4 linked regions of the Homo sapiens genome follow. The protein of the gene in region 3 purifies or fractionates together with the protein of the main gene of each other region. This does not show direct contact. Each region holds a gene or a part of one and is shown on either strand. Other genes may lie near its edges. The genes, in order: UNC13A, LSP1, ERC2 and BSN.

Region 1 (4,682 bases), on a different chromosome or scaffold from region 3:
AGTCTGAGGAGAGAGGCACAGACCCAGGAACAGTGTCTAAGATGTGTAGTCTCCGGGGAGCATGATCTGATGGGGGAGGCAGGGCCTGGGAGCTCAGACTGGGAAAGAAGTGGGGCCTAGGGCTGCTAGTCTAAGGAGGGAGGCACATAGCCAGGAACTTAATCTGAGTGAAGAAGCAAGGTCTGGGATCCTTGTTTGAAGGAAGAGACAGGGCTTAAGGAATTCTAGCCTAAACAGGGAGACTCAAGCCTAGGGAGCCAATCAGAAGAGAGACACCAAAGCCTTAGTTTCCGGAAGTCTGGGAGGACTACAGAATCGTGTATCTATTAAAAATTGCCTTGGGAGGCCGAGGCGGGCGGATCACCTGAGGTCAGGAGTTCGAGACCAGCCTGGCCAACATGGTGAAACCTCGTCTCTACTAAAAATAAAAAATTAGGTGGGTGTGATGGCACATGCCTGTAATCCCAGCTACTCGGGAGGCTGAGGCAAGACAATTGCTTGAACTCAGGAGGTGGAGATTGCAGTGAGCCAAGATTGCGCCACCGCACTCTAACCTGGACCACAGATCTCAAAAAAAAATAAAATAAAAAAAAATTTGCCCATGGCTGGCCGGGCGCGGTGACTCACGCCTGTAATTCCAGCACTTTGGGAGGCTGAGGTAGGTGGATCACCTGAGGTAAGGAGTTCGAGACCAGCCTGGCCAACATGGTGAAACCCCGTCTCTACTAAAAGTATAAAAATTAGCTGGGCACGGTGGCAGGCACCTGTAATTCCAGCTAGTTGGGAGGCTGAGACAGGAGAATCGCTTGAACCCAGGAGGTGGAGGTTGCAGTGAGCTGAGATCGTGCCACTGCACTCCAGCCTGGGTGACAAGAGCAAGACTCCCTCTTAAAAAAAAAAAAATTGCCCACTGCTATAGTGGGAAGTTCTGACACTGTCTTCTTTTTCTGCCCTGCAGACAAGCGAACTGACAAATCTGCCGTGTCGGGTGCCATCCGGCTCCACATCAGTGTGGAGATCAAAGGCGAGGAGAAGGTGGCCCCGTACCATGTCCAGTACACCTGTCTGCATGAGGTGAGGGTCATTGCTCGGCCCCTCCCATGCCACTTCCACTCACCATTCCTGCCTGCCCAGCTCTTCCTCTTTCTGGCCACACCATCCACACTCTCCTGGCCCTCTGAGACTGCCCGCCATGCCATTCCCTTTACCTGGAAAACTCCTCCCTATCCATCAAAGTCCAGATTCAGGGTCACCTCCTCTGGGAAGCCCACCTTGGCCTCCAGGTTGACTCTCACTACTCATCATCAGGTTCTTCCTTCTATTCCAGCCCTAACCACTCAGGATTGGGCCGTTTGTGTCTGGGTATGTCTCTTCCAGCTGCCTGGGTTTCCTGGAAAGAACTCTTATCCCCAGGAACTAGTTTGTTGAATAAATGCTGGTGAATGAATGAATGATTGAACAGATGAATGAGTGATGAGTAGATAAAAGGATGGATGGAGAGATGGGTGAGTACATGGATGGATAGATGGATGAGTTGGTGGGTAGATTCGTGGCTAGATGGATGATGGATGGATGGACAGATGGATGGATATATGATTGAACTATTGAAAGTATAGATGTATGGATGGGTGAATTTGGGGGTAATTGTTAGATGATGGATGAGTATAGATGAATGATGGATGGATAACTTGATGAGTGGATAGATAGATTGCTGGATAGATGATTGACTGGGTGGATAGATGAAATGTTGGATGAGCAGATTAAGTTGTATTGGATGGGATGGATGGAAGTGTGGTTGAGTTATTAGAAGGAAGATTGAGTAGATAGGTGAATTTGTTGATAGTCAGATGGGTAGATAGGTAGATGGATGGATGGATGGATGGATGTATAGGCAGATGGACAAATGGATGAATGGGTGGGTGGATGAATGGAAGGATGTGTGGTTGAACTATTGCAAGTATTGATAATTGGGTTCATAATTTCTGAATATTTAGATGGATGGTTGTGAGTGGCTGGTGGACAGACGAAAAATGGATGGTTGGATAAATTGATGGGTGGATGGATGGTTGGTTGTATGAAAGAATGAATGATTGGGTAGGTGGATTAAGTTGCGGATCAATGTATGGGATGGATGAATGGATGGATGGATGGATGTGTGGTTGAATTACTGAAAGGTTGGAAGAGTGGATGGGTGAAATTTGGGGTAGTTAGATGGGTGGGTGTGTGGATGGATAAAAGAGTAGATGAATGAATTAATGAATAAACAGGCAGATGGATGATGTAAGCTGCCCCAGACCCTGGGACCTCTGACCCCCGGCGACCCCTTGCACTCTCCATGACACTTTCTCTCCCATGGTGGCAGAACCTGTTCCACTTCGTGACCGACGTGCAGAACAATGGGGTCGTGAAGATCCCAGATGCCAAGGGTGACGATGCCTGGAAGGTTTACTACGATGAGACAGCCCAGGAGATTGTGGACGAGTTTGCCATGCGCTACGGCGTCGAGTCCATCTACCAAGCCATGACGTGAGACTGCAGGCTGGGGTGCAGGAAACAAGAGGGAGGTCACCAAGTGGGCACTGGCAGGTCTGGGGTGGGAGGGATTCTCAGGGGGAAGACCCAGAGAGGAAGTGGGCGTGGTGGTGGTGGGTTCCGTAATTCCCCTGGAGATCAGGAGAGCGCTGTGATTGACACCTGGAGTGACATGGAAGAGAGGGAAGACTTAGAAGCAGAGATAGAGGCTGGGCACAGTGGCTCAAGCCTGTAATCCCAGCATTTTAGGAGGCTGAGGTGGGCGGATCACTCCAGGTCCAGGAGTACAAGACCAGCCTGGCCAACATGGTGAAACCCCATCTCTACTAAAAATACAAAAGTTATCCAGGTGTGGTGGCTTGGGCCTGTAATCCCAGCTACTCGGGAAGTTAGGGTGGGAGAATTGCTTGAACCTGGGGGGCAGGGGTTGCAGTGAGCCGAGATTGCGCCACTAAACTCCAGCCTGGGTGACAGAGTGAGACTCCATCTCAAAAAAAAAAAAAAAAGAAAGAAAGAAAAAAAGAAGCAGAATTAGAGCAACTCAAATGGATATAAAGATGGAGGGGAGAGGAGATGCGGAGACCCAAAGGACAGAATCAGGCAGGGGATGGTTTAGGAGGTGACAGAGACCCACTCACAGATGCTATCTTGGAGGCATTCTAGGGGGGATCTTGGTCCATCCTGGCTGGACCCCTGGCCTAGTGCCTCCTGCTCCCTCTCTCCAGCCACTTTGCCTGCCTCTCCTCCAAGTATATGTGCCCAGGGGTGCCTGCCGTCATGAGCACCCTGCTCGCCAACATCAATGCCTACTACGCACACACCACCGCCTCCACCAACGTGTCTGCCTCCGACCGCTTCGCCGCCTCCAACTTTGGGGTCAGTCCTGGGGACTGGGATTGGAGAATTAGGGAGAGCCCAACTTTATGCCGGTCAGATCTGATGTGACTTCTGGGTCCCCAGTCTAGACCTGATTGCTGTGTGACTTTCCACCAGTCACTTCCCGTCTCTGAGCCTCCATTTATTCCTCTGTAGAATGCTATAGAATGGAGGTCGGGCGCAGTGGCTCATGCCTGTAATCCCAGCACTTTGGGAGGCCGAGGCTGGAGAATCACTTGAGGCCAGGAGTTCGAGACCAGCCTGGCCAACACGGTGAAAACCCGTCTCTTCTAAAAATCCAAAAGAAAATTAGCTGGGTGTGGTGGCCTGTGCCTGTAGTCCCAGCCACTTGGGAGGCTGAGGCAGGAGAATTGCTTGAGCCTAGGAGTCGGAGGTTGCAGTGAGCTGAGACTGCGCCACTACACTCCAGCCTGGGCAACAGAGCAAGACTCTGTCTCAAAACAAAAAAAAAAATGCCATAGAATGGAAATGGACATTATGAGGGTGGTGGATGAGGTATACTTACTGTACAGTAGGCGCTCAGCCACTATGGCGGCCATGTCCTGCCTCCATCCATCCTCCCTCCTCCCCTTCCTCCTCAGAAAGAGCGCTTCGTGAAACTCCTGGACCAGCTGCATAACTCCCTGCGGATTGACCTCTCCATGTACCGGGTAGGAAGTGTGTGCATGAGAATTTGCTCACCCCACGCACATGTGTGTGCCTGGAGGGGAAAGCTACCAGCAGGTGTGTGCATGGGAGGACCCATCTTCGCATGTACGATGTGTTCCTCCAGCATGTGTGCACCTGCATGGGCACTACCTGCCGTAATGTGCTTGGTGCATCCAAGCAGATCCCCAGTTGCTTCGAGGTGCTCTAATCAACCCCCAGCCTGAAACCGGGGAGCCTTTGTATCCCCCTGAAAAGCAGTCTCCCATCCTCCCCACGCCTTCTTCCATAACCCCACATCTCTTCCTGCTCCCAACAGAATAACTTCCCAGCCAGCAGCCCGGAGAGACTCCAGGACCTCAAATCCACTGTGGACCTTCTCACCAGCATCACCTTCTTTCGGATGAAGGTAGGAAAGGATCCAGTTGCCTTTGCTCTCCAAGGAGGGTTCTCTAGGATCCCCAGCTCCCAGGACAAGTGACATTCCTCCTGGAGAGTGGCAGCCTTTCTCAGTAACCTTTTCCTTTCATACCACTTCATTTCCTTAAACCCAAAATGACTCGCAGTCACTTCCTGGGGACCTCCTGTCACAGCTGTGGCCGCCTATG
Region 2 (4,682 bases), on a different chromosome or scaffold from region 3:
TGGACAAGTGGGTCCAGCCCCTCAGACTGTCGCATGATGTGGCCCCTCCCCTCAGACTGCCCGGGACGGGGCCAGATTCCTCAGAACCACCCCTCCATGATGTGGTCTCTCAGATGCCCCCAGGACAGGACTGTCCTCTCCCACGAGGCCTCAGGCCAAAGAAGGTCCCCTGACCCTGGGCGGGGTCCAGGCTCCGCTTCGGCTACCAGCCAGGCTGGACTGCGGTTCCTCCACTCGGGGGCACTCCTGTCTCGCCCCGCTGTCCAGCAGACAGTCACTAGCTTGTCCTTGTCCCTTGGGGGCAGGGACGAGGATTTCACAGAGCTGCCTTGTGGCTCTGGGGGGACTCTCTGGTGACGCTGGGGGATGCCTGCCCTCTATAGCCCCCAAGAGCAAGGCTCTCCCCACACTGAGGAACTATCTGGCCTTGGAGGCCTTGAGGCGATGAGGACGGGGCGTCCTGGTCCACAGCTGGGGAGGGTCAGGTTGCCCTCTCAGACCTTGGGTTCGACATATCCAGATGTTGGAGCCCAGCTCTGCAGGGGTGTACCCTCCCTGGGGTCACACTGCATTTTTGGCTGCAGTGCCTGTCCTTGGCCCAGCTGCCCGGGGGTGCCCACCCGCCCAGGCGTGCCCACCCCATGTCCACACCTAGAAGGCAAGTCTGCCTGCCGCCACCCTGTCCCACAGACACCCTGGCTGCCCTCTCAGTCTGCCCCTGTGTAGCCCAGGCCCCCATCAGGATGACCCTACCCCCAGTCTGTTCCCCATGAGCGACCAGGCCGTGTCTCCCACGGAAAGAACCATTCACCAGCTACAGGCAAACTCCATGCCCCTGGGTGGCCATGCCAGGCCCTCCTGGCCTGGTTGAACTCACTTCCCATCCCACCAGCTTTCCCAGCTCTTCCCAGTTTTGGAAGGTGTCAGAGCCCTGGCACATGCCCCTCCTAGCATCACCCAACCGCCCTGCTCCTCTGCAGACCTTCAAAGGCCTGCCCAGCCCGCGGTGGGAGGCCGCTGCCCAGGGCTCTGGCAGCACCTGCCATGGACAGGGCCAGTCCTGGAGCCCCGCCTGGCCCATCGGAGCCTCCCTCGCTTCTCTGTGTGCTGAGCTGAGTTGGGAAGGGCAGGGATGACCTGAGGGGCTGCTCTGGCAGGGTTCCTTCTGGCCATCTGTCCCTGGAGACCCTCAGAGCTCCAGATTCTGAAGGAGGAAGGGGCTGGAGGCCCCCGGCAGCCCCCTGGAAGTCTTCATCTGAGCAGCAGGAGCCCATGGGATGGAACCCCCCAGGCAGCCAGGCCCTTGGGCAGCCCTCCCGCCCACCTGCCCTCCGAGCCAAGGCCAGGCACCACCTGGAGGATGTGCAATGCTCCACGCTGGGGCAGGTGGCCCTGAGAGCCCCCAGCGGTGCCCACGACTGCTCAGGAAAGAGGGCAGAGCTGGGGACAGTTGGGGAAGCCACCTCAGCCCCAGCCCTAGCCCCACAGGGGCTGCTGAGGGAGGTTAGGATTGAGGGCTAAGCCCTGGGGCTCCCTCCCTACACCTTCCTGTGGTCAAGACCTGATGTCTGGACCCAGGATCCCTGGGGAGGTCCCCTTCCTCCTGCCCTGGGTAAGGGGTCTGAGGCATCTGGAAGTTTCCCAGGGAAGCAGAAGGATGTCTTCTTCCTCGTGGGCTGGCAGGCGCTGCTGTCCACCGACACCCAGCTGGGCTGGTCGCACAAGTGGGAGCATCACAGGCCCCACCCCCGCTGATTCTGGAAGCCAGAATCCTTTCTTCCTGCGCCCCCTTCCTGGTTCCCTCGTGTCTCCTAAAACAATCCTGGAGCCACACAAGGGCAGTGCCAGGAGGGTCTGGGGTCCAGCTGGGACAGGCCCTGGCCGGTGACACCCTGGGGTGGCAGGATGGTGGGCCTCTGCTCCGCTACCCTACGGGCCAGCCTGTCTCCACCTCAGTTCCCTGAGAACGTGCCAGAGGGATGGGTGAGCCCTAGAGAAGAGGAGGGTGTTGGCAGTGGAAAGGGCCCAGTGGTCTCCCGCTCTGAGTCCTCAGCCTGGTGAGGGGTGGGGGCGTGAGCTCTGCCTTGCAGTCCCAGCCCCTGAGATCCCACTGCTGGGGCGGCGGGAGGGGGATGGGCTGCAAGGCCCCAGGGCTGGCCTTGCTTCGGCTGCTATAGGCCCTCGGAGTGCTTTCTGGATGAGTAAGCCGCACCCCTCTGAAGCCTCAGTTTCCCCATCTGCACACTCAGAATGTAGCCACTCAGACCAAGCGTTCACTCCATGCCAGTCTTTGCCAAGCTATTTATTTATTTATTTGAGACAGAGTCTCGCTCTGTTGCCCAGACTGTAGTGCAGTGACACAATCTCGGCTCACTGGAACCTCCGCCCTCCAGGTTCAAGAGATTCTCCCACCTCAGCCTCCTGAGTAGCTGGGATTACAGGCACCTGCCACTGCCCCCGGCTAATTTTTGTATTTTTAGTAGAGAAGAGGCTTTCACCATGTTGGCCAGGCTGGTCTTGAACTCCTGACCTCAGGTGATCCACCCGCCCCAGCCTCCCAAAGTCCTGGGATTACAAGCATGAACCACCGCGCCCTGCCTTTGCCAAGCTTTTTAAACCAAGGCTCTTGTTTCATCCCCCGGAGCTGTGAGGCAGGTCCCTGGAGCCTCCCATTTCACAGACGGAAACCGAGGCTCACAGGGGCCAAGTGCATTGTCCAAGGGCTGCTCCCTGCCTGGGGAGGGGCCTGAGTCCTTGCCCCTGTGGGGTTCGGGTGCTGAGGGCCCACAAGACCTGCGGGCACCAGGAGGGAGCTGGGCTGGGCTGCCCTTCCCGGGGTCTCTCTGACCCCACACCACACACCAGCCACTCTGGACTCAAAGGCTCCCAAGAGCACCAGAGCACTGCTCATGGCCCAAGCTCAGCAAGCACTTAAAGGGACCGTCCCGAAAAGCGGAACTGGGACCGGGCGCTGCAGGACCAGCAAGGTCCTCCACTTCCCTCCAGCCCAGCCCCGCCCAAATCCCAGCCCTCAGCATCTTTTTGGGGGCCACTAAAGACCTTCTGGGAGATGGCAGCCCAGGACCATAAGGCAATCGAAGAGGGCTTTCCACATGCGCTGAGGCAGACAGAACCAGGCCCTGGCTGTGGACGAGGCTGTATTGATACTTAGAAGAGAGGGAAGCGAGCGGGCTGGAGAGGCTCGGCCAGGGGGCAGCCCAGCAGGGCCCCTTCCCCAGGGTTAGACTCTCTACAGCCGGCCCAGCCCCCATCCCCTCCCCAACATCTAGGGACCTGAAAAGAGGTTGGAGGGGCTGCATGGGGGTGGGGTTGATAGGAGATTAGGGGATTGAGAAAGCCAGGCCTCCTAGCCGTGTCCCACCCAGCACGGCCCCACCAGTGCCAGACACAGGCAGACAAGGGAGGAGGGAGATGCTGAGCAGGGGTGGCAGGAGGAAAGCCCCTGGCCCTTTCTTGGGGCCAGGCAAGTCCTATCCTAACTCCATCTGCTAACTGCCTCCAAGCTGCTTGTGGGTTGTCGGGGAAGGGAGTTTGTGGCAGGGAGGGCCTCTGAGTCCCCTGTATCCCCCGGCAGGAGGAGGCAGGCACATGGGCCCCTGACCTCAGTGCTTGGAGCAGGGCCGCTCTGGTGGGGCATTTGTAGGTCACAGCATGAAGGGTTCCAGCATACTTCCTGGGTTCCCAGTTTCCCTGGGAGCAGTGGTATAGACGCAGGGGCCTCTACACACACCACACGCTCAGGGAGAGTGGCTGAGGTGTCCAGGATACTCTGTCCACTGGGGCAGGGGGTGGCTTCTAAGCCCAGTACCCTTCCCAGAGTCCCCAGTCTCCAGCTGCTCATGGGCTGCAGATGAGGATTCAAGGTTATGCAGGGGTCACTCTCCTGCTCCATCCCTGGCAGGTGGGACCTCACCTACTGCTTCTTTCTGCTCCAGAGAAGAGCACGTCCCCCTCATCTCAAAAGTGCCTGTGCTCCTCCTTCCTGAGTGGAACCTACACTTTTGACAGTTTGGTTTCTGAGGCAAGGCTGCCTCCTCCTCCTGTCCCAGGTACCTCCCCTCAGAAAAGCAATGGGACTTGGGATAGAAGGATCTAGCCAATTCGTTCCAGATGAATCTAGAAATAATCCTTTAGCCTTTCTCTTAGACCCAGTCCCAACCAAAATCTGAGCTTCATCACCACCACCCAGCACCCACCATTCACCACCCAGCCTCCAGCCCCCAGCCCCCAGCCCCCAGCCCCCAGCACCCATGACCCACCACCCTGCCCCCTACCCGTGGCTCTGGCCCATTCTCCTGCTGTCAGCAGTGCCTGCTTGAACAGAGGGCCACACTGAACAGATGCATGCTGCAAGCATTTGGAGGCTGCCTCCTCTTTAAATCACAGACATTTATCCACCAGGGATCACTCGGGAGCCAATGAGGCCACCACCCTGACCTCCCCTGTCCCCATGGGCTCTCTCAGTGCTCAAAGCACCTTTCACTGGGATGCTGCTCTGTGAACATACATTCGCAGGTATGTGTCGGGGATGATGAGAATGTGTCAATATGAAGACAGATCCCTGCCCCTGTAGCCCCTGCTTAGGCTCTATTGAGGTGTTCAGCCTCCTGGGCCATGGTGGTCTGCTTTATCCTTGGGCCATGAGCTTATGAACCATGTCT
Region 3 (4,682 bases):
AGAGACCAGAGGTTGGGAGACCACTGAGGCTTGAGTGCATGACATACATGCTTTAGTACGAGTGAAGGTGGAGGGAAAACTGGGCATGAAACAGAGCTGGGGACATGAGAAGATAATGGAATTGAGTGAACCCAAATCATAGTTGCTGTTAACCTATGATCATCTGAGAGCAAAATGAAAGTCTCCTGAAGGCTAGTATTCACTTCTACTGATGGCTTCACATTTGCCCAGAAGTAGGGAATGAGTAATGTAGAGAATTGCTAATGAGATATGAATCACTATTTCATGCTGTGGGGTGGGGTCTTCTACTCATTGTCAATACCATTTATTGAGCCCTTGACGACCTTGTATTAAATGACTTTGGTCTGGGTCTGGCTCCACTGTGCCAGTTAAAGGTAGCAGAGATGAAGGGTAAGGTCAGAAGGTGCTGCAGTGGTACATTAGATTCTGTCCATGGACTTATTTCTGCTAAACATTCTAGACCTTCCTTGAGGGGTAGATTGGGGTTACTTTAACTGTCTGTGTCTCCTTTTTTTCTTCTCTTTACTTTTTAAATTTGTAAAATAAAGGATTTGGTTTACATTCATAGTTTTCAAATGTTTTTCAGCTGTTAAAACTTTGTTTCCTAAATAAAAATTTATCTGGACCCTCAGTATATTTATAGAAAGCAGAGCTGTTCTGGAAATTTAGGGTCCAGATTTATGTTGTATGAAGTGTCTTTATGTTGAGGCCACTGCTCTAAAATGACACCTACACACCCTTCCTGGTTCATGATTATGTGAATCTTATAGCTGTTCAGATGTTTTATTTGTGCATCATCTTTAACAAATCCCTTTGTTATTCCACAGGTTGTGTCTTAATATCATCTGTGGTAGAGACTGTTAATGTTCCCCATAGCCACTTTTTCTTTCCTTCCAGGCATATGTTGGAGGTGGCTTGCATCACTTCCATGCTAGAATATTTGATTTCCAGTGTGAGAGCACCCAGTGCCCTCTTCTACTGCAATGATTACGGAAATGTGTGTTGAGATGGAGCCCTTCATCTGCCTGGGCCTTTCAGTCACTAAATGAACACAGCTTCCCGTCAACTGGAGTTGGACATATAGACCAAGAAGTAAACTTTGGTTGTTTTAAGCCATGAAGAGTTTTGTGATTTTTGGTTTCTGCAGCACTTTTCTGCTTATCTTTACTGATACACCATCTTTGAGCACATCTGCTAAACTTTATGTAACTTACTTTTTGGGTGCCTTCTGGATTAACCTGAAGCCTGGCCAGCTTGTCCTTACTTTGTAGTTAGGAAAAGAGTGGGCTGGCATCTACATCCGCTGTCCGTGCTGGTCTCTGTGCTAATAGATTCTTTGAATTGAAAGCTTTATGCTCAATAACATTTGTTTTCATGCTTAAAAAGTTCCTGAAGACATATTGTATAGTGCACCTCACTGTTCTTTAAAAAAAAAAAAAAAGCCTTTATGCCATCTTGCTTTTTTTTTTTTTTTTTGTATTTTTAGTAGAGACGGGGTTTCACCGTGTTAGCCAGGATGGTCTTGATCTCGTGACCCCGTGATCCGCCCGCCTCGGCCTCCCAAAGTGCTAGGATTACAGGCGTGAGCCACCACGCTAGGCCGCCATGTTGCTTTTTCAAGTATAGAATCTCTGTGGCTTAGAGAGGAATAATGACTATAAGTTACCATAACAATGGCTGTTATTAAGTAGTGATTGATTTGTGAAGTATTTATTGAGTATCTACTTTGTGTTAGGCACTGGGGGTACAGAGATGAACAACAGATAGTTCCTTACTACTTGGAGCTAATACTCCAGTTGGAAGTGATGGATACGTTTGCTCTGTTATATGAAGAGCACCATTTATTGAGCATTTACTATGTGGTAGGCACTGTGCTAGGTGCTTTATATTGCTCATTTCATATTACCTATACAGGTAAATGTATTATCCCATTTTATAGGTGAGGAAACTGAGACTCAAATAATTTGATAAGTTCCATAAAGGCAGGAGCTTTGCCTTTGGCTGTATCCCTAGTGCCTAGATGTTCTGTAAGTATTTGTCAAATGACTGAAGGAACAGAAAAACTTGCTCAGAGTTAATGCTGTGGCAGAGCCAGAGTTTGAATCCACCTCTGCCTTACTCTCAAGGCTGCTAAATTATCACTAGAGAAAGTAGAAACAATGAGTGGCCCCACAATTACAACAGAAACAACCAACAAGCCTTAACCATTGTCAATGCCAAAAGCACCAGGAGCTCTAAGCTGTCTCACTTTCACAGCCAGGGCCGAGCCTTCTTTGTGATTTTCTGCTCATTCTTTCAGCTGGGGAAGTCCAAGGCCACTACATCACTGACTTAATTGTTAATATAATTGGTTACCCTTCTCTTGGGCCAGTTCATCTGCTACTCCAGCCTAATTTCTTCAGCACTTGGCTGGCCAATTCCCAGGGCGTGCCTCAAAGTTCTGCTCTTAACCTCTTGGGCATTACTTCTCCACTTACATCTTCCAGATTTGTTGCTTTGAAGTTGCATTTCCTCTGTTCTTGAACTCATGTTGACTCTGCCAAGCAGAGTTCGCTTGGTCAGAGCCCAGGAATCTCTAGTTGCTGGCACCTAATCAGCACTCAACAAAATTAAAAAGAGAGAGAGTGCGTGTGCATGGAAGAAGAGAAGAAAATAAATAAAGGCAGGAAGAACCTTCAGGAAGGAACTAAGTGGTTATTTTTTCCTGGAAGTCAATGGTGAGATTATAGCCCCACTGGATGAAGAGTTGGAAGGGCATCTGTGAGATATACCTGAAAACCAAAGGCCAGCCGCAATGTTCATAGACATCTTATACCAGCAACTTAGTTTTGCTATGGTTTATTTTTCAGAGTCTACATTTTGCTCACTTAATTATCCTGTGTGAGTGTGTGTGTGTGTGTGTGTGTGTGTGTGGTCTGATAGCATTAGCTCTCTTTTCCTGTCTTAATACTTTCCACCCCTAAAGGTAGTTGTCATTCTGTGATTTCAGGGCATGAATGAGTTGCAGGCAGCAAAGTGCATTTACCCTAAATGCATTAGGAGCAAACTATTAATTCAAGGCAACTTCTTAGTGGGTCAGAAGACAAGAGCTTGAATGGGAATTGAGCAATGTGACTGTTCTTTAAGAATATGCTCAGATCCTTATGCAAACCGTGAAAGATTTCTGCTAAATGGTATGACTAATTGCAGTAAGAAAGAGCAGGGTTTCCTATAAGAAATTGAACCTAGTTGTGCACTGTGGTTACCAGTTCTTATGTGGCATATTTCTCTATAATAAGATAGGTGTGGTCAGGAGTTCATCCTCTATGGGCCTGAGGTGATTGAAGGTGGGTTTGGGGTCTGGGAGCTGCTCTGGCAGTGAGAGTTGAGCAGCTCTGCCAGATGTGAGGTTAGGGCGGTCCCATGATCACTGGTTATTTTCTCAGTGATACTGGTGGGCATCAAATTTCTACCAAGATGTCTTTCTTGTGCCTGGCTTGAGGCAGATTAGCCATGCTCCGTTTTGTCAGCCAGCTCCAGCTGTCATCACCTCGAGGAGCAGTCGTGGTTCAAGGGGCGGGTTCCGAGAGGAGCAGGGTTGTTGACTCTTTTTTTACATTGACATCTCAGGAGAGGATTTTTGATGTCTTTTCTTTCCTTCTGGTGATGTATGTTTTTCCTTCCCTTCTAAGGCTGTAACATTCCCTCCTCCCCCTTCTTTGTTTCGCATTTTGACCCTTTATTCGTATTGTTCATGAAGCCTCTCCCTGACAGGAAGCAGGAGGTTGGGTAGTGAGTGGGATAACAGCGTGGCATTCGTATGGGCTTGTTGAAAATAGGTCCTGTTTGATGCTGGGTGGATACAAAAGCACCTGGGTCTTAGTGGCTGCTGTTCATCAGGCTTGTGAGCGTGGAGCAGTTAGTGTGGGCACGCAAGGGGAATTCTTCACCTTTTTTGTTAAAGCTGAGAAATAACTCTCTTTTTATACATGGGCTTTGAATGCATTCATGGGCCACCTTGAATTCACAACATGAATAGTTGCTTAGAATAACTTCAGAGCAGATTCTTTTGGATACAGAGACATAGCACTGACCTGGGGTCACAAGCCCTAAGTTCCCTTTCTGGCTTTGCCACTAGCTTTCTCCTTATTTGGGATCTCTGTTTCTCTATCATCTAGTCCAATTTGCTTCAAAGGCACTCTTCTAGATCTATTATATATATATTTTTACAACAGTTTCTTCATGCAAAGGTTCAACTAAGTAATTATCATTTTATTAGTTATTTTAACCTGGAAAACAGGAGTGGCTGGTGTTCTTTCATAATAGACATTAGTAACAAAGAATTAAGCCATTCTGTTATGTAGTCGTCGTAAAAGTGTATGCTTGCTTTGTGCCAGTCTTCTTCTGGGAATAGGGTGTGTACACGTCAAGAGGACCATAATAGAGCAGGTAATTTTGTAGGGGAGTTCAGGGATTGTAGTATCCAGTGGAGCACCAAACAAGTAAGCAGGCAATAATGGATGCTCTTTGGGGGAACATCCAGGCTATCATGGAAGACTTAGGAGAGTCATGGATGAAGAATGAAGGAAGGCTTCCTGAAGAAAGTAGCACCTAAAGTGTCACTGAAGGGTAAATGGAATTAGCCAGAGGAGGGAGGATTTGAAGGTACAAATAACAGGGGG
Region 4 (4,682 bases), 6.8 Mb from region 3:
TGATGGTATGCGGATGAAGCACGGGATGGCTGTGAGTACTCAGCAGAGCTGGGATACCCAGGCTGACCCTTCTTCGGCATAGCTGGAGCAGAGCTGGGCTGAGAGTGGGGCCGGGCCTCATGGCGACCCAGGTCCCGAGCGTGTGGTTTGGCAGCACGCCGTCCCGGCTCCTCACCAGTGTGGCGGCCTGAGTGCCGCCCGTGGTCACCGTGCCGGTGTTCCTTGGCTGAGGCATGGCGGCCTGGGCCACCCTCATCATGAGGCCACAGGCCCTCCTCAGGGGGTTCATCGTAGTCATGGTAGCTGTGCCTGGCAGGGCCTCGCTTCTGGGAGGAGGAGGAAACTGCATGGCCCCCGTGGTGCCTGAACCGGTCAGAGCGGGCATCCCGGGGCTTATCAAACCAGTCCGTCTCCTCCTGGCCCAGGTGATACGCTTCAGAGACCAAAAACAGAATACCATCAACCCCCGGGCTAGCCGCAGGGGGAGGCCTAGCTGAAGCCATGCAAAGAAACCAAGAGAGTGGGTGCCACAGCCACAAGCAGATCAGCAGGCCCCCAGCCCACCCTCCCGCAACCACGGACCAGGGCACAGATGGAGCAGGCAAGGGCAGCCTGCCTGCAGCAGGGCCCACCAGATGAGGCGCCAGACCAGACCCTGCTGGGACATCTTAGGGCCCAGGGCCCCACAGGTAGGCAGGCCCCCCAGCTGCTGAGTATCCGCAGAAATCACCCCTGGCTGCCATTACCTTCGCTGTCGGAAACCACGCAATGGGAATCATCCAGGATGTAGCCCTCCTCACGCTTATATGCGTGGGCCCGAGGTCCGTCCTTGACATGTTCCTGGACATCAGGCATGGAGTGGCTGGAGCAGAACTGTGGGCAGGTATCCCCGCCGGGAGGGAGGGGCCCTCCGGCAGGGCGGGGCCTCCCCAAAGGACTGACGGGGCTCTCCTCTTCAGAGGCCTGGCTCCGCATGGGGGGTCGTACCCGGCTGTGGGCCATACTTAGGGATGAGGGCTTGGGGCCCGCTTTTTGAAGTCGCTCCACAGCCTCCCGTTCCCTTTCGTACCCCTTGCCCCAGCCACTGAAGTCGTGGCTGGACAGCTTCTCCCCACTGTATGCAGAAGGTGCCCGGGACCGGCTGCTCCCGCCATAAATGCGGTCGTCCTCCACTGCGTCCCGGCTGGACATCCCATAGTATTTTTGCTGCTCATACACGTTCTTCTTGAGCCCATAGGTGATTTCATCCTGGAACTTCCTGCCCCGAGAGACCAGGCTGCTGCTGACTGCAGGTGGGGGGTAGGACGCCAGGTCTGACTCTACGTCTTTGGCCTCTTCAATAGGCGAGAACTTGGATATCTTTTGCTCCATGCCCTGCTTCCGGTGCTTGCTGCGCTTTGAGGAGATGGCAGCTGGAGCCAGGCTCTTGGAGGGATGCTTGGGCCCCATGGGCCCTGGACCATACTTCTCTACTCGAGCCCCATGCCTGTAGTCACTGTCACCATAGTAGTGGGTACTGGCTGGTCGACCATTGCTCTCCATGCTCCGGAGGTGGCCACCCTTCCCGCGGGGATCGTATGAGTCCTCCTCAGATTCCTCTTCTCCTCTGGCATAGCAGCAGGGCAGTGTGGGCCCGTCAAGGACACCTGGTTCTCCAGGCTCCTTCCCTGGACGCCCACTGCTGCCTGGCCCCAGGGGCTCCAGCCGTTGGCTATCAGGAGCAGTAGAGGTGCTGTCCTTGGTCAGTTCACTGATGTCATCAATCATTACGTAGTTTCGAGGAACGTTCTGCTCCAGACTGGTATAGTGTGAGTCAGAGGGGTAGGTGGGGGCTGGGCTCTGGCTCACACTGCCACGGTCACCAGCCCGGGGCACCTCAGGGACCTTGCCCTGCTCATAGCCGCTGCTCACTGCTGGGCCACTGTAGCTGGTTTCAGATGGGGCTGAAGACATGGGCACAACGGGGCTGGCGATCACCTCATAGTTGGTGGGCACCTTCTGCTCCAAGTCGGCTAGCGATGTCTGGCGTGGCTTCTGCAGTGGGGCACGGCTATCAGCGGGGACTGGAAAAAGGGTGCTCTGTGTGGTTGGCATGGGTGTTTGGCCTGCATAGTGGCCTGTGGGGCGGAAAGCCTGCTGGTTTGGCAGGCCAGGCTCAGCTGGGTAACTGGCACCAGGAGGAAAGGCAGGAGCTGGGTACGTGCTGGGGCCAGGGTAGGTGGGGGCCTGGTGGGCTGGGAATCCGTTCTGAGTTGGCCCACCACTGCCTGCAGAATACTGTGGGGCTGGAGGCTGGAAGCGGGGCTGCTGGAAGGCAGTGGGACCAGAGGGGGTGGCAGGAGCAGCGGCAGTGGCAGGGAAGTCCACAAACTGGCCAGCGGGAGTGGTGCAGCCCTGGAGCCGCAGCTGGTTGAGCTCACTGTCCGATAGGTAGTCACGATGCTCGCCAAGACCACGCAAGGGTGGGTAGTCACGGCCACCCCGGTCTTTGGCCAAAGACTCTTTGCGTTGTGTGATACCCAACTCCAGGTACTTGAGCTTGGCGTCAATCTCCTTCTCCTCCTCATCCAGCTCTGCCTGCTTCTTGCGCAGTTTGGTGGACTCATGCTCCACCAGCCGCAGGTCCCGGTCCAGCTCCCGGAGCAGGCTGGCCTTGGTAGCAGGGACAGTGGTGGGCCCCGTCAGCCCTCGCTGCAGCAGGCTGGCTGCATACAGCTGTGGGGAGGCCTGGCCAGCCAGGGGAAGGTGAGCCTCCTCTGGAGGGGGGCTGGGCAGTGTCCGCTTCACCTTGCGGACCAGGCTGTTGGGTGGCAACGCCGACACCTGAGACAGAGGGAAGGGTGGGCAGCACTGAGACCCAAGGTGTGGTGACTTGATGGGGTGTGGGGTGGCAGAACCCAGGCCTGGGCTGGGGAAGGAGCTGGGTTCCATCTTGCTGGTGCCCTGATTTACCAGGCAGCCTGGAGGCCTACCCTGCCCACCCATAGGCCTTGGTTTCTTTGCCATAGAGGGAAGATCTGTGATTATTTTACAGCCCTTCTCTTTCCCAGAGCTTTGGGAAGCAGGAGGGTACGGGCAGATTCCCTTCATGCCAATGTCCTGTACTGGCCCAGCACATGGCTTTGAGAACCCCTGCACATCTCCAATGGGCCTGCCACCCTCTGCCTCACATTGAGGTAAGAAGAGTACAGCTGTGGCTCTGGGTTTGGGGCCTAGCAGCTGACAGGGGTTGAGATCAGTGGAGTATGAACAGGAGGCATGGAGTGGAGAGGGTCCTGGGCCCGCCAGGCTCCCTAGAGGATCATGGGAAGGGACACATGTAGATTGTATGCCAATCGTGGCAGGCTCTGAGTCATTCTGCATCCTGCCCTAGTCCTCTCTAAAGTGGAAGGCTCCTCAGCTGCCTGCCCACCCTCTTCCTCTAGTGCCCTGCACTGCCCTCTGCCAAACCCTCTGGGCTGTGCTCTTGGCCTGGTCCCCAGCTCCCTCCATGTCCCTCGGTCAACCTGCTGTTCTCTGGAGCCACCAGTGCACCCGTAAGTCCTATCCAGCCCTACCTCCAGCAGCATGGCTTCCTGGTCAAGGTTCCCTAACAGTGCCTACCATGGGGTCCTCCTTGCCTACCCTAGACACTCTGCATTGCCTGAAGGTCCACATTGCCTGGTAGTTCACTCTGTCTTCTCCCTTTTTCTCTCGCTCCTAGCCTTCCCAGAATGCCCCATGCCCTTGGGTTTCATGGACCACCCAAATTCCAATATATACTGGGAAGTGACTCCTATAGGATTCTTACTTTTTACCTTGCCAAGTAACTACCTAAAAACCTCCCACCTACATCCACCATATGTCATAATAAAAATTATAGTGTGCCCTCAAAATTTCAGGGTGGGCCTTTTATGGAATAAATTTAGCCTTTTGAACCCCTCACTCTGTTGTCTCTTTTCTTATTTTGGCCACGCATCATGAGTGCCTATCATGGCCTGGTCTCACATGGCCAGCCCATGGGACCTCTGTGCCTGCAGCCAGGACCACCCTGCCTCTCTGACCTGCCCTCCCTGCCAGCCTAGAGTCCTGATCCCACCCACACCCCTATATGGCCTGCATACACCAAGACTTCACTACCCAAGATTATCACCTCCACAAACCCCATTCTAAGGCTCCACTTTTCTCGTCTCTGTGTCACACCCTGAAAATGGGCAAATCTACCTTACGATGCCTCTGGCTCCTGCCTCCTCTGCCAGGTCTCTTCCTTCAGCCCACCCTCCCACATTCTGCCCAGGAAACTTTCCAAAACATCTGCTTTGTCCCATCTCACATGCCTAAAACCTCCAGAGGCTTCCAGGGTCTTTAGGAAAAGCCCATCCTCCTCAGCCTGGCACTCAGTTGTTGGCATTAGGCCCTCACAACCCTCTATTCTCACTTTGGCTGCAGCCCACAGCCAAGCCACTTCTCACAGTCCCCATCCATCACTGGCAAATAAAGCCACAACCAAGGGTAAGCTTATGCTTCTGAATCCCCTATCTAGGGGAGCAGACAGATGTGTAAACAGATTTACCGAGGGCCAGGTAGGGGCAGAGAACACCCTGGGGCAGAGAGCACACTGCAGCCCGCTGGGATGGGCCTCTAGTGCTAGGCCATAGGGGTGTGGGCTTCCTGTGTGGCAATGGAAACCAGGCCAGGACTGA

Evidence for each region.
Region 1: the proteins of ERC2 (region 3) and UNC13A purify together in Homo sapiens (affinity purification with western blotting, with the first as the bait; one study listed by BioGRID). This does not show direct contact.
Region 2: the proteins of ERC2 (region 3) and LSP1 purify together in Homo sapiens (affinity purification with western blotting, with the first as the bait; one study listed by BioGRID). This does not show direct contact.
Region 4: the proteins of ERC2 (region 3) and BSN purify together in Homo sapiens (affinity purification with western blotting; one study listed by BioGRID). This does not show direct contact.

The regions. Positions count from the first base shown.
Region 1 is NC_000019.10:17,639,237-17,643,918, reverse strand, and holds part of UNC13A (protein unc-13 homolog A), read left to right. Parts: intron 1-958; coding exon 959-1,074; intron 1,075-2,362; coding exon 2,363-2,526; intron 2,527-3,257; coding exon 3,258-3,408; intron 3,409-4,010; coding exon 4,011-4,079; intron 4,080-4,393; coding exon 4,394-4,483; intron 4,484-4,682. UniProt on the Homo sapiens protein: Plays a role in vesicle maturation during exocytosis as a target of the diacylglycerol second messenger pathway.
Region 2 is NC_000011.10:1,855,457-1,860,138, forward strand, and holds part of LSP1 (lymphocyte-specific protein 1), read left to right. Parts: intron 1-4,007; exon of another isoform or gene 4,008-4,080; intron 4,081-4,682. UniProt on the Homo sapiens protein: May play a role in mediating neutrophil activation and chemotaxis.
Region 3 is NC_000003.12:56,457,780-56,462,461, reverse strand, and holds part of ERC2 (ERC protein 2), read left to right. Parts: intron 1-4,682. UniProt on the Homo sapiens protein: Thought to be involved in the organization of the cytomatrix at the nerve terminals active zone (CAZ) which regulates neurotransmitter release. Seems to act together with BSN. May recruit liprin-alpha proteins to the CAZ.
Region 4 is NC_000003.12:49,658,627-49,663,308, reverse strand, and holds part of BSN (protein bassoon), read right to left. Parts: intron 2,824-4,682; coding exon 747-2,823; intron 434-746; coding exon 1-433. UniProt on the Homo sapiens protein: Scaffold protein of the presynaptic cytomatrix at the active zone (CAZ) which is the place in the synapse where neurotransmitter is released.